Linked DNA regions of Homo sapiens. The protein of the gene in region 3 purifies or fractionates together with the protein of the main gene of each other region. This does not show direct contact. Each region holds a gene or a part of one and is shown on either strand. Other genes may lie near its edges.

Evidence for each region.
Region 1: the proteins of DSTN (region 3) and RNH1 fractionate together in Homo sapiens (co-fractionation; one large-scale study listed by BioGRID). This does not show direct contact.
Region 2: the proteins of DSTN (region 3) and CORO2B purify together in Homo sapiens (co-immunoprecipitation; one large-scale study listed by IntAct). This does not show direct contact.
Region 4: the proteins of DSTN (region 3) and PCDHGA9 purify together in Homo sapiens (co-immunoprecipitation; one large-scale study listed by IntAct). This does not show direct contact.

What each region holds. Positions count from the first base shown.
Region 1 is NC_000011.10:500,743-504,242, reverse strand, and holds part of RNH1 (ribonuclease inhibitor), read left to right. Parts: intron 1-1,993; 5' UTR 1,994-2,080; coding exon 2,081-2,181; intron 2,182-3,500. UniProt on the Homo sapiens protein: Ribonuclease inhibitor which inhibits RNASE1, RNASE2 and angiogenin (ANG). May play a role in redox homeostasis. Required to inhibit the cytotoxic tRNA ribonuclease activity of ANG in the cytoplasm in absence of stress.
Region 2 is NC_000015.10:68,581,993-68,585,492, forward strand, and holds part of CORO2B (coronin-2B), read left to right. Parts: intron 1-3,500. UniProt on the Homo sapiens protein: May play a role in the reorganization of neuronal actin structure.
Region 3 is NC_000020.11:17,597,269-17,601,305, forward strand, and holds part of DSTN (destrin), read left to right. Parts: intron 1-3,469; coding exon 3,470-3,777; intron 3,778-4,037. UniProt on the Homo sapiens protein: Actin-depolymerizing protein. Severs actin filaments (F-actin) and binds to actin monomers (G-actin). Acts in a pH-independent manner.
Region 4 is NC_000005.10:141,405,778-141,409,277, reverse strand, and holds part of PCDHGA9 (protocadherin gamma-A9 isoform 1 precursor), read right to left. Parts: intron 1,258-3,500; exon of another isoform or gene 1,076-1,257; coding exon of another isoform or gene 1-1,075. Other genes in the region: PCDHGB6 (protocadherin gamma-B6 isoform 1 precursor), read right to left, coding at 1-1,075. UniProt on the Homo sapiens protein: Potential calcium-dependent cell-adhesion protein. May be involved in the establishment and maintenance of specific neuronal connections in the brain.

The DNA of each region.
Region 1 (3,500 bases), on a different chromosome or scaffold from region 3:
CTGAGCGTGGCCCGTGTCTCCCTAGAGGGTGGCCCCGCGCCCCCGTCACGTCGGAACATAAGGACCTGAATTGGCCTCCAGACGGCCCCTCCCATGTGGCTCCCCAGGGTGGGGCCCAGGCCTTGGGTGCTGCGGAGACCTCCCTCCGTAAGGTTGAGAAAGTCTGGTCTCCGGATAAGGGACCGTTAGGGCCTCTGTTCAGATCCCTGCCTCAACCAAAGCAGGCTGCCAGCTGGTGGTAGTGGGTTCCTGAATGTGCTTTTAGCTTTGGCTGTGTAGGGAGCCAGGGACTTCTCCAGTCACAGAGAAGGGCGTTTACTCCCGCATTTTCATGGGGTCCTCAGTGGGATCCGTGACCCACAGAGATTCAGAAGGGCCTTTCTGGGATACAACAGGGTCTGGCCAAGCCTGAGGGGTAGGGACGGGGCTACTCCCGCAGCGCTAGTTGCAGATGGTCACGGGAGCACTGGCCACCCTGAGCTCCCACCAAGCTTTCCCAGGAGGAGGACACCCTGGGGCCACCTTTCATCTGGCTGCAGAGGACACAGGAGTGTCAGGCTGGATTTGGGGAGCGTGTGCACCCTGGGCAGCCCCCTGAGGCTCTCCTTCCACCCGCCCTCCCGCCCACAGTGCCTCCTGATGACTAGATTCTGGAGTCAGAATTTGGGTGACCACACCCTGGTCGGTTTTGCTCACGTGCTTCGGGTCGGTTGGATTCAGTTCCTCCATGTGGGGCCGTGGGATGTCACCACCCTTTGCCACTGTCCTTGCAGGCCGGGCGCCCAGGCGTGTGGACCCGAGCCCAGCCTTGCGTCTTTCCTCCCAGTTGGTACCAGGGGCCTCTTGCCTCCACTCATGCAGAGTGGACCAGCCGCCTCTGAAGCAGCCCCGGGGAGAGGAGTGCCAGGCACACAGACTCAGGAAGCTGGGGGTGTCAGGGCACCAGGAGCCTCTCAAGCGGTCCTGTTGGCCGTCTTTCTGAAGGGCAGCTGGGGTTGCATCATTTCCCCAAGTGGATCCTGCCAACTTTCTGGGGCTTCTGGATGAGAGCCCTCTCCCCACCCCACCCACCCCTCCCCGCATTGTGGCATCAGTGCTGCTGCTTCCAGGGAGCCTTCCTGGCCATCCAAGCCTCCTCTCCAGGTTCCTGCCCTGCTGTAGTCCCCAGGCCAGTGCTTGGCAGGTGCTCAGGGAATGTATCCACCAACCAAGGTTTGGGGTGGCTGTCTCTGCCTGACCACTTTCCCCAGGCCCCTGGCGGGTACCTGAGCTGTGCTCTCAGGGCCTCAGGAACCTCCTTCCATATTCAGGGCCTGTGCCTGGGGAGGCTTCAGGGTGTAGCAGCTGTGCCCATCCCAGGCTGACCCACCCAGCTTGCCTGGTAGCCCAGCCTCTGGGCTAGTGTGCCGTGGGGCAGGGGATGTGCTGTAGCCTGGTGCAGAGTCCCCAACCCCAGAAGGGGGCCATGGAAGCTGACACCCCAAGTGGCCGCCCCCCTGCTCTGTCTTGCTTCGGACACTGTGGCCGGGTCCAGGATCCTGGCATCCTGGGAGGTCTCTGGCTTTGTGGGCAGCCTGCCTGGCCCGCACAGTCTGCCTGTCCTGAGGGTGAGACACAGGTCAAGCCCACAGACCCCCTTGCTCCCCTGCTGGGGCCTCCAGGCTCACAGACCACCCCACCCTACCCTGTCCTTGCCCAAGCAAATGAGAGGCAGGGGCTTCCCGGGCTGCTGCTGTCCCGCCCTCTGTGGGGCAGGAGGAGGTGCCCACAGAGGCTGGGTGGTGATAGCCAGGAGATGGGCTGGCATCTGCATTACCCAAGCTCTGCTGCCCATGGTGGCCTTTCTGGGGGTGGGTGCTGGTCCCTGCCCCCTGCCCCACCCCTGATGTCTGCTCCAGAGACAAAGGTGGGGAGGGTGCTGAAGAGGAAGTGTTTGCCCAGGGAGAGGCTGCGGCTCCTCCTGAAACATCAGCCCTGTGGGTCCTGTTTGCAGAATCTCCGGCCTGTGAAACTGTGAGGGGATTCGGCCAAGACGTCCTCTTCCCTCTGCCTCCCACCCAGGCCACTCTTCACCTCCACCATGAGCCTGGACATCCAGAGCCTGGACATCCAGTGTGAGGAGCTGAGCGACGCTAGATGGGCCGAGCTCCTCCCTCTGCTCCAGCAGTGCCAAGTGGTCAGGTACGCTTGCTCTCGGGGTGGCCTTGGGGTGCTGGTGGGGCAGGCTGGCGGGTGGCGGCTCCCTCTGAAGGGTGCATTGCTCTGGAACGCCTTGTTTGTGGACATGAAGTATGAATTCTGTGCAGCTACCACGTGCATGAGATGTGATTCTTGTGTTTCTTTTTGACAATTTAGGAATGTAAAACCCATTCCAGGCTCATGCAGCATGGGCTGAGGTGGGCGGGCCGAGGTGGGCGGCCACTGGCCAGTGGGTCTCTGGCTCCGGTGTCTCAGCTCCTCTCCCTCCCTTGGAGACACGAGGGCAGGACACAGCTTGGGTCCCCTCCGTGAGCCTCCATGGGGCGCTGCTTGTCCCTGCCAAGCTGGGGGCTGGGAGTCCTCGGCCCTCGAGGTCCTCACAAACCCAGCAGCTTCACAAGCAGGACACGAGTGCCTGGGTGGGCCGCATCTTTTCTCTTTTTACCTGGTGATTTCAAGTAGTGTCAGGTTTGCGGAGGAGTTACGAGGACCGGACGGGGCTCCCTGGTGAGGTGGTCCTGTGTACCTGCGGACGCTAGCTCTGGCCCAGCACCTCCAGGCAGGGTCTGCTTTTCCGCCCTGCCCTTTTCGTCTTCCTCACTGGTCCAGGATTGCGTGGCCCTCAGCCCTCTGTCTCCTTAGCCCTCTCCCGTCTGTGACTGTCCCCTCGTCTCTCTGGGTTCTTGGTGGTCTGAGGGTCTGGCCAGGCTCCTGCAGGACGTCCTCTGTTGGGGCTTGTCTGGTGGTTTCTTGTGGTTGAAGTCCTACAGTTTTGGCAGGAATGCAGGGAGATGCCGTGGGGCCTGCCAGGAGCGTCCTGTCACAGGCGCCGTCTGCCACCCTCTCCACTGTGACGCCACTGCCTTTCCTCCTGTGACTGATCAGTGCCTTCGAGAGATACTTTAAATTCTTTTTATTTTTAGAGACAGGGCATTGCTCTGTCACCCAGGCTGGAGTGGCTCCCTCATGGCTTATGCGGCCTCAACCTCCTGGGCTCAAGTGATCCTCCTGCCTCAGCCTCCCGAGTAGCTGGGATTATGGGCATGCGCCACCACGCCCGGCTACTTTTGTATTTTTAGTAAAGACGGGGTTTCTCCATGTTGGTCAGGTTGGTCTTGAACTCCCGACCTCAGGTGATCTGCCTGCCTCGGCCTCCCAAAGTGCTGGGATTACAGGCGTGAGCCACCGCGCCTGGCCACGTGCGAGCATCTTAAACAAAACTTTCATGGAACAGTTCCTCCTTTTTGTTTCATTTCTGAAATGTCTTGTGTGACTTGCCTTGCTGTCTTCTGGGCCCACTG
Region 2 (3,500 bases), on a different chromosome or scaffold from region 3:
CTCAGAGAGGCCTGGCAAGTGGAGAAGAGGAAAGCAGATGGCAAGTTGCTAGATCCTCAGTAGCACTTCTGTAGAGGAGGTGAGCCTGTTTTCCATTTTCCGCCTCTCTTTCATACATCCCCTTGCCCCCTTAACCATGAGGCACAGCTGCTAAAGCTGCCGGCAAACCCTGTGGTTTCTGAAGGACTCCTGCCCTAACTAGCCTTAGGAACACAGAGCCCCGGAGAACTTCTAGCCCTGTGGCATTTCTCCTGGCTATGTTTTAAACTTTATTTGATTGTATGTAATTTAGTAAGTTACCTTACTTTCTTTATAGGATGAGAAAGAGAAGAAAGCCAGAAAAAGGGAAGAAAGAGTGGAGGGAAGGAAGGCTCTGATGCAGGGCCCTGAGCATGCACAGGAGGTCAAGGTGCTGCCTCCTCTCAGTCCAACGTGCTTCCTAGGGCAGCTCGGGGCGAGGGAGCCAAGGCTGCTTTCCCTGAGACGAGTAGCTCCAGCTGATTTTATTCTTCAGGTTCTTCTGACTGCTTTGTATAATTTTCTTGTTCTGTTCCATCTCAGTCATGTACCAGACTAGCAGTGCTTCTCCAGTTCTAAATATCTGTTTCTACATTGCTATCAACTGGAAAAGCAGAGGACAAGGTACATTAATAGAGTCGTGTGTAAAGTACAAGTTAATGGGCTATAAGAAAACCTGTGAGCTAAAGTCTAGGCCCTTGCAACCCGCTTTGTACTGCTCAGAGGCCCTTTAGGGTGATTTCCTGGCTGCTGGCTGTGATGTGACCCAGAGGTGGGTCTTCCAGGTAAGGGAGGAGGTGGCTTATAGTGACCAGGCTCCCCTATTTTGAGGTGTGCTGTGTTAAGTTAGACGCTAGTGAGCTGAATGCTTTTTACCTTCCTGAGCCTGGCTCAGGGGGGTCAGCGGTCCAGGAGCAAAGTACCCTGAGCAGCACAATTGCCTGCTGCACCTTAGAAGGCCTTAGGAGAGGGAGTGTGGGAAAAGAGAAGACCTTTCATGCCAACATGCTCCTCCCTGCTAAGCAGATAGATTGTAGGTCCGTGGGCAGCACGATCAACTGTGCCCTGGCCCCTCTTTCTGCAGGCAGCCTTCCCTCTCCTGCCTCAGCTCCAGCAGGGCACAGCCTGCTGATAAGAGCCAGTGGCTCCTGCTGAATGTGAAAGGACTGAGGATGATGTTATCCTGCCCAGGTAATAGCAGGCCTGCATTTTCCAAAGATCATGTGTCTCTAGGGCCCCTACAGAGTCACCCATAGGAGAATAAAATTTTGGAGCGGGCAAATCACCCAACCCTTTCCCTTGAGAAATGAGGGAACTGAGACGCTGGGAGCAGAAGTTGTAACTTGCCCAAAGTCATTCAGTAAGTTTGAGGCTGGAGGGGCTGGCACCTCGGTCCTGACTCATGGTCAGTGCTCTTTCCACCCGGCTGCCCTGGCAAGGGGTCCTGGGGCATTCTGAGCAGGCACAAATGTTTTGGCCCCACTCCACTTACCCCACTGCATCGCCCCTTCCTGTCCTGCTGGTGCCTGGATTTCCCTCTGTGGGACACCATCTGCCCTAGATGGAAGAAGCATTGCGGGAGTGGGAGGAGGGACAGGATGTGGGGCAGGGGAGCAAAGTCCATAGGAGCCTTGCTATACCTACAGTCAGATGGCGAGGGGGATTATGAGGCCCCTCTGCCTCCAGTTCCCTGACGCAGAATCTAGGTACCCAGGAGATACCTGAACCTCCAGACATTCTACATCCCAGCACCTCGTTCCTGTCTGGGTCTCCCTGGGAGAGGAAGTAAGAGAGCCAGCACCTCAGGAAGCCTTGGTGAAGAGGAAGCGGGGGTACCAGCACAGACCCAGCTCCCGGGTGGGAGCCCACTTGCGGGTGGGCAAGGGCTCTGCCTGCTCTGCCCACACACCCATTATGCCTCCTCTCCCTTCCCGGCCTTCTTCCAGATATCCAGCATTCTCATGCTGGGAGGTGTGCGGCTAGCAGTCATTCGTTCATTTAGCCAGCACCCTCTGAGCACCTACTCTGGGCCAGGCCCTGTGTGAGGCATTAGGAAAACAGTGGCATTAGCCACAGTCCCTGGGATCCAGGACCTTAGAGGAGAAGGACATGGAAAGGCCAAAGCCTTGAGTTCAGAGTCTCGAGGTCCAGTGGGCATGAGCCAGGAGACCTCTTGCCTTGCCTGCATACTGTAAGTGCCTAATGAATGCAGGCTCTTTCCTTCCTTACTGTCTCTCCCTCTAGGCAATGAAGCTCACTCTCCAGAAAAGCGCTGTCAGGTGCTTTCTTCTGGACTGTGCCCAGAGGCCCTGTGTTCCCCTCCCCCGAGGCACTGCCACCTTGACACCTATGGCAGTTCTTAGAGGAAGCTGGGAAGGGTTTGAGGCTCTCCAGGGCTCCCAGAATCACCCCACAGTGGCCAGCCCTGTGAGGTTGGCACACACTTGAGTTTGGCTGGTTGGGAGTGTGGGCGCTGGCTGGGCCAATGTCCTGGCAGCTCAGGGATGGAGTGAGTTTTTCCACTTCTCTCCCAGGCCAGCTAGCTGAAGCAGACACAGCCTCCGCCAGGGCCAGGGCTGGTGGAGTCTCGGCTCCTGGCACCCGGGCAGCCCTGACTCTGATTTGGATATGCCTGGCCACAGAGCTTATCTGGTGTCCAGGAGATGAGAACGTGTGCAGATTCTCTCTGCGCCCAGCCCTGTCTCCTTCCCTCTTTTCCTGATCAGCCCCATTGGGTTCCCATTCCTTCCCCTGTAGGCCCTGCAGGCTCAGGCCCAGGGTCCTGGAGCACCCTGCAGCCTGGGGAGCTTGGGGCAGCTGGCATGGGGCAGGCCTTGCCAGGGAAGGACAGATGCAAATCCAGTGGCTTCCACATGAAAAGTAGCTGTTTAGAATGAGCCTCTCCTTTGTGGGCCTGGAGTGCGGGACCAGCTGCTAAGGAGGCACAAGTGGGGTGGGGGTGGGGAGTGGGGGAGAAGCCACCACCGCCCTTCCTCATCCCTCCTTTTTGCCCCCGCAGAGGCCCCTGGAGGGACTTTGTAATTGGTTTCTGGCTGGCAACCTCCTTCCAATTAATTAATGTAGCAATGGGAGGCTCCCAGGTTTGCTCAGGCTGTCTTTCGTACAGAATACATACATGGGTTACTTCCCTGAATCCCATCAGCTCTGTCATGGTGGGGACGGTCCCCTCTATTTAGGGACGGATAAACAGAGTGTCTGAGTGGAGAGATGACCACACCCTGGTCCCAGAGCTAATGTGGGTCAGAGGCGGGATGCACGCCCAGATCTTCTGGCTTTGAGCCAGAACCTTTTCAATCCGATCACATAATGGTCCACAACCCATGAAGATTAATCACCATCATCATGATAATAACAGTTATTAAGCAGGCGTTGGGCACGCATGATCGCATTTACTCTGTACAACCATGGGGTAGATTCTATTATCCATCCCATTTTCTAGAGGAGGAGAGTGAGGCTTAGTG
Region 3 (4,037 bases):
CTGCCACTTTATTAGAGTGAATGTTCATTTATGAACAGAAAATGTGGAGTAGATGGCATTGGAGTGTGTTATTTAGAGATCTTTAATGAATGAGATGATGAAATAGCCCAGTTACCTTAATATTAAGTAAATGCTAGGATCTTAGTGTATCTTTCTCCCAGGATTCTTGCATGTGTTTTAAAGTGACAACTTTATTTTTATTTGTTTGTATAAATGTATGGGGGTACAAGTGTAATTTTGCTACATGCATGGATGGTAGCAGTGAAGCCAGATCTTTTAGGGTATCCATCACCCGAATAACATACATTCTACCCATTAATTAATTCCTCATCCTCCCCTGGCTCTCCATTGTCTTTTATTTCACACTGTGTCCAGGTGTACACATTATTTAGTTCCTAAGTGCGAACACATGGTATTTGTTGTAATAACTTTATTGAGGTATAATTCACATACCACAAAGTACAGTTCAATTCAGTGGTTTTTCAGTATATTCACAGTTGTGTATGCATCACTCCTGTCAACTTCCAGAACATTTTCATTACTTCAGAAAGGAACCCATACTCATTAGCAGTCACTCCCCATTCCCCTTTTTTCTCAACCTCTGGAAACCACTAATCTACCTACTGTCTGTTGATTTTACCCAATTTGAACATTGCATATAAATAGAATCATGCAATAGGTGCCCTTTTCTGTCTGGCTTCTTTCACTTAGCACAGTGTTTGTCAAGGTTCATCCTTGTAGCATGTATCAGTACCTCATTTTTTTAATGGCCAAGAAATATTCCATTGTGTGGATATACTACATCTTAAAAATCTATTCATCACTAAATGGACTTTAGGATTGTTTTCACTTTTGGTCTATTTTGAATAATGTTACTATGAACATTTGTGTACAGGTGTTGGTATGGACACATTTTCATTTCTCTTGAGTATATATACCTAAGAGTGGAATTCCTAGGTCAGGTGTTAACTTTATGTTTAACTTTTTGAGGAACTGCCAAACTGTTTGCCAAAGCAGCTGTACCCTTTTACAGTTCTACAGTAGCATATCAGGGTTCCAAGTTCTCCATGGCCCCACAAACATTTGTTATTGTCCATCTTTTTTATTTTAGCCCTCCTAGTGGGTGACTCATTATGGTTTTGAAGTGAAGAGGTATCTCATTATGGTTTTGATTTGCTTTTCCCTAATCACTATTGATGTTGAGCATTTTTTCCACGTCCTTATTAACCATTTATACATCTTTGGAGAACTGTCTATTTAAATCCTTTAAAACTGTTTTTTAATTGAAGTATTTGCCTTTTTTTATAATTGAGTTGTAAGGGTTCTTTATTCTGACAAGTTCCTTGTAGGATTTTTGGATGTTTTCTCTCATTCTGTTGGTTATCTTCATCTTATATGCATTTTTATTTCTTAAATGATTTGACATTTGGGTATCATTAATATTTTTCCATTGTTTAGTATTTAAATTCTATTGCTTATGATTCATTTTTCCCTTTTTATTAAAAAAATTTTAGAGGCACGGTCTCCCTATGTTGCCCACACTGGTCTCAAACGCCTGAACTCAAGTGATCTTCCTGCCCTCTCCCTCTAAAGTGCTGAGACTACAGGCATAGCTACTACCCAGCCTAAAGATACCATTCTTGACTCAAAGCATGGTTTTACATAAATTGACCATATGACCCAACAATTCCACTCCTAGTTTTCTACCCAAGAGAATTAAAAACATGCCCACACAAAACCTTGTACACGAGTGTTTATAGCAGTGTTAATAGTCAAAAAGTGGAAACAACCCAAATGTCTATCAACTGATGAATAGATAAGGAAAATGTGGGATATCCAAACAATGGAACATTATTCAACAGTAAAAAGAATGAAGTAACCAGCCGCTTTGTCATGCACCTGCAGCCCTGGCTATCTGGGAGGCCAAGGCAGGAGGACTGCCCAATTTTAGGAGTTCAAGGCTGTAGTGTGCTATGATCATTCCTGTTAATAGCCACTAGGCTGCAGCCTGGGCAACATAACGAGACCCCATCTCTCATGCACCCCATCCTGCATCATGGCTGAACATTCCAGATACTTCACAGCTCCCACCTGCTTAGCCAGGGAAGGGCCTTGCTGAGGAGTCATTGGCACTTGGCTCTGCTCCTTCAGCTTCTTCACTGTCTCATGGTCACTCCACAGGTCCCTTTTGGTGCCTACCAGCATAACAGATACATTGAGGCAATGATGGGAGACCTCTGGGTACCACTTATGCCTCACATTGGCCTAAGAGGATGAGTTGCCAATGGAAAAACAAATGACAGAGATATTGGTCTTGGGGATAGGAGAACAGTCGCAGTTGGTCATATTCCTCCTCTTGGCCAGTGGTGTCCCACAGGTTCAGGCTGATGATTTGGCCATCCACAGATGTCTGGGTGCTGTAGTTGTCAAAGACATTGGGCATATACTCCTTAGGAAAGGCATTTGTTGTATAACTGATGGGGAGGCAGGCTTTGTCTACAGCCACATCTCCTGCAATCACACATTTGATTGTCTACATTCTTCCCTTAGTCTGATCATCCTCCAGTGCTGTTCAACCATGACTGGCAGAGCCTCCTGGGCATCTCTTGTTGGGCTTTATAATTCTTGCTTTAGAAAAGCTAACATGCAAAACAAAGTAGTTAATGAGGCATTAACAATTATGGATATAATAAAGTTAATGTAAATAGCACATTCCTCAAGATGAAAAAATTAAAAACTGGTTTAAGATCTTGTGCTATCAAGATTTTGTTTAACTGTCCTTCAGCCCAGAATAGCAAGTATAACATAGCGAAAGGTAATTTTTCTGGTCAGTATAATCCCTAATTAAGCTACCCTCTTTATTATAGCAGTAGACATTTTCTTATTTATTCTAATCTTAGTTTAAAATTTGGAATTTTTAAGTGAAATTTTAATGGCAAGTGTGACTAATACTGAATATTGATCACATAATTTTGAAATGTGAGTAGAGCAAAGACCTCTTAATAAATCTTTTTTTTTATTAGAGAAAGAGATGCTGTAGGGATGGAAATTTCCCAGTCTAGCAGCTATGACCAGCTACTGTGTATTACAAAAGGAATTTTAGGTATCATGAATATACACACTGGGAAGATGATCTGCCTGTAGTCAAGGCTCTAAGCAACCTGTATAAGAAGAAAATAACCCAGCACCTTAGGAAACACTTCTTTTAAGGTTCTAGGGTAGGAGAGGCTGCTATAGTTGAATGTTTCCTTACCCCTGTGCAGTAGTGAGGAATGGCATATATTTGTGATCTTTTAAAAAGTTTGATGTCTAAAATTAGTAGTGATTACAGCTCAAATTTCTAGTTTTTTAATTAGATGATATACCTTTAAAATGTTAAATATATGCCAATCTATAAGCAGAATTTATTATTTTATGTTTGGCACAATAAAAATTGTAAGTCTTTTTCTCATGTATTTTCTCATCATAGGCCTCAGGAGTGCAAGTAGCTGATGAAGTATGTCGCATTTTTTATGACATGAAAGTTCGTAAATGCTCCACACCAGAAGAAATCAAGAAAAGAAAGAAGGCTGTCATTTTTTGTCTCAGTGCAGACAAAAAGTGCATCATTGTAGAAGAAGGCAAAGAGATCTTGGTTGGAGATGTTGGTGTAACCATAACTGATCCTTTCAAGCATTTTGTGGGAATGCTTCCTGAAAAAGATTGTCGCTATGCTTTGTATGATGCAAGCTTTGAAACAAAAGAATCCAGAAAAGAAGAGTTGATGTTTTTTTTGTGGTAAGCATGTTAGAAATATTGAGCCTCTGTAAAACTCATTTTGTTAGCACTCGGGAAGACCAGTTCCAGCACCAAAGTAATTTTTATTCAAACTATTTGCAGTTGTTGTCATTTAATTTTTATTTACAGGTTTCATAATGTTACCAGGGCTGATGTTTATGGGACCCAAACTAAATTTTGACTATTTTCTATCTACTTGTTATGTGACTCTCCGTTTTTGTTTTTTTTTTCAATGGGGAAAGGACAGGAGGCATCCTCTG
Region 4 (3,500 bases), on a different chromosome or scaffold from region 3:
TCTCCAAAATCTGATCAGAGAGAGAAGTGATGATTATTTCTGGGCTGTTGTCGTTTTCATCAAGGATTTCTATGATTACTTTACACTGGGTAGAGAGACCACCTCCGTCCTTCGCTTCCACTTCCATGGTGTACCTTTCTACATCTTCAAAATCAAATGACTGGTTATTCTTAATCATACCTGTTTTCTCATCCAATGAGAACATATGTTTTGTGCTCTGGGCAGTGCTTCGGAAGTAGTAGTTTATCTCAGCATTGACCCCCTCATCCTGGTCAGTGGCTGTCACTTGCAACACAGGGGACCCAGGGGGCAGATTTTCACTAAGACTAATTCTATATTCGTCTCTGCTGAAAACCGGGGGGTTATCATTGGTATCCTTGACAGAAATTTCTATGTGAGCGGTGGCACTTCTTGGTGGGTCCCCTCCGTCCAAGGCAGTCAATATCAAGCTATGAGATCTCTGTTCTTCCCGGTCTAGGAGTTTCTCCAGAGATAACTCTGGGTATTTGCCACCATCGGAATTAACTCTAACCATTAATGAAAAATAAGGATTAGAGTTTATCTTATAATCTTTAATTGAGTTTATGTTTATATCAGGATCCGTGGCAGGGTCAAGCGATAGTCGTGTACCAGCGGATGCAGATTCGAAAATTTCTAAATGTATTTCCTTTTTATCAAATTGAGGGGCGTGGTCATTAACATCCTCAATCACCACAATGACATGAAAAATATTTAAAGGATTTTCCACCACAGCTTCCAATTGCAACTCACATCTTCTTCTCTCTTTGCATATTTGCTCACGGTCTATTCGGTTCTTCACAAGTAAGTCCCCGCTCTCCGCGTCTACGCTGAAGTGCAGCTTCTCCGCGCTCACTCGCAGCTTGCGAGCCGACACATCCAGGACACTGAGCCCTAGATCCTTAGCGAGGTTCCCCACCACCGAGCCCTTGGCCAGCTCCTCCGGAATCGAGTAGCGGATCGGCTCACTCAGGGTGGGGTAGAACAAAGGCAGCAGCAAAGGAAATAGCACCTGCCGCGGGCCGGCCCGGCGCCTCTGCGCGCAGCTCCCTCCCATCGTTCGCTCGGGTTCTCGCTGGGTCCCCGCTTTTCCAGTTGGAGAAAGTGCACTCTACCGCGCTAAAAGAGCATTCGGCCCAGGACAGGAGGAGTCCCGGGTCTCGGAGCTGGCAATCCGCTGTGCTGGGAAAGGTCTGCGCAGCCGGGAGGCTCTGTGTGGGAGCTGGTTTTCTTCTTTCTGTTGTTGGCTGCGCAGGGAATCCCAGGCCAGAGGCTGACGGATCCCCGGCGTCAGCGCTTGCTCTGCACTGGCCGACAGCGGCGCCCAGAGGCTCCGTGCGGGACAGCAGCCCGGTTTTTCATTTTGAATTCGGTCTCCGAAATGTATATATTCTTCGAAAATGCAGGTGTACATCCCCCTCAAATTTTGCTCTCACCATAATATTATAGTAGATATTTCTATGCTTTGTGTTTTAAATAAATCTATTATGCACAATTTCAAACTTATACAACAGTAGGGAGTATATATAGTGAACCTTCACATAGCCATCACCCCACCTTCAACAATGATCACCACAAAGCCAATCTTTGTTTAATATATACTGCGCTCCCCCATTATTTTTAAGTAATACGAGATATAGAATGTCAACCAATGCTTCTTTTTAAGATGAGACATTAAGGTCAAGAATTTTATCTTTCAGCTTATGTTCTACAATCTGTTACCAATGCACAATAAGTTAAGTCCTACATAGCCTAAGAAAAACAGAAATAAAGATTTTCCATACTCCATTCAGTCATCTGTCTGGTGAGCCTCGTGTTCTGGTTTTAAGGGCAAGAGACATTTTTGTGGTATCGAATAGTAACTACCTACCATGACATACAAGCCTTCATGGATATCTGTTATGTTTTCCCCAAATTAACATACATTTCAATATTTATAAATACTAAGTATGAAGGCTACTCCTCAGAACAGAAATTGTAACAATTTTCTTGTTGCATGGTTAAAAATATGAGCCTGAAGTATGCTTTATTTTTTTTGCTACCCACTTAAGGGGGAAAACGTGTTTGAAATAATTAAAATGTCTGTATGTCATAAAGGATTCCCAGACACTTCAGCTTTTTTTTCTTAAAAATAAAGCAACTGAAACCCAAATAATTACAAACAAATAAAACAATTCTTCATTTCCACAGAAATGCCAGCAGTCATCAGTGTATCTATGGATCACATGTTTAGCATAGAATTTTGAGTCAACTTCAAAGCTTATTTTCAAATGTCTTGTGAAATGTTATTTACTATTTGAAACAACACTATGTTTAAAATAACATTAAATAATACATTATTCTCTTCCTTATAGCTAAAAACAGTAAAATAGTTTTAGAATCTTCCCAGCAGTTCCTGAGAATATTTTCTTAAATTATATCTGATATGCAAGTTCATTTCTAGACTCAAAAGTTGGAGAATTGAGCCAGAAATAATATATAAGTGAGAGAAATATTTTTAATTCCTTGTTTTGTCATTTCACAGTGTCCAGTCTTAGAAACTTCTCTTGAGCAAGCATATACTATAGAAAAGAAGAATGTCCTACTATTCTCCATAATTTAACATTAAAGCATTAGGAAATTAAGACCTTTGAAGATATGAGAATAAAAGATGTGACAACTTTCACCATTAAAGGGAAAAAATTGGTTTACTAGGGTTTGGAAGTGGATAACTGAAGTTTGAATCTTCGTCAGAAAATATCTGTAAACACAAACAGACTTTACACACTTGTGATCTGAAAAATATAACCTCAAAGAGGTGTTTTCCTGTCATAGAAATGGAAGAATAGAAGCAATAAATCTGGGCTTTCAGCTGTTTCTCTAAGAAGAATACATTTACCTTTTTATCAGTTTACCCTTACAAACATAGTATGACCTGAATAAATGATCGTAGGAGTAAGAATTTGCTGGGTGAGGTGGTTCACACCTCACCCAGTGCTTTGGGAAACTGAAGCAGGAAGATCGTTTGAGACCAGTCTGGGCAACATAGCTTGCTAGCCCTCCCACCTCAGTCCTAGCTACTGTGAAGGCTGAGGTGGGAGGATTGCATAAGCCCAGGAGATTGAGACTGCAGTAAGCTTTACCCACACCACTGCATTCCACCCTGGACAACAGAATGACACCCCCATCTCTTAAAAAAAAAAAAAAAGGAGTAAGAATTTTATGATATGAGTCCACTGCAACCAATGAAGCAACCCTACCCAAAAAGCCCACATCAATGCAGGCTGAGAGCTACCCCATGAAGTATGGTTTACGTTGACAGCAGGTTAATTATTATGAGAACATGAAAGTTATATCAGCAAATATAACTAATAAATGCCTCCTTTCAGTGTTGGAGCAACAATTAGGCCCAGTGAAAAGTGATGAGAAACACACTGATATCAACTTATACTACCTTAAGTACAGACAGTTAAAGAGAAAGCTAACTATAATAGAAAGTTAAG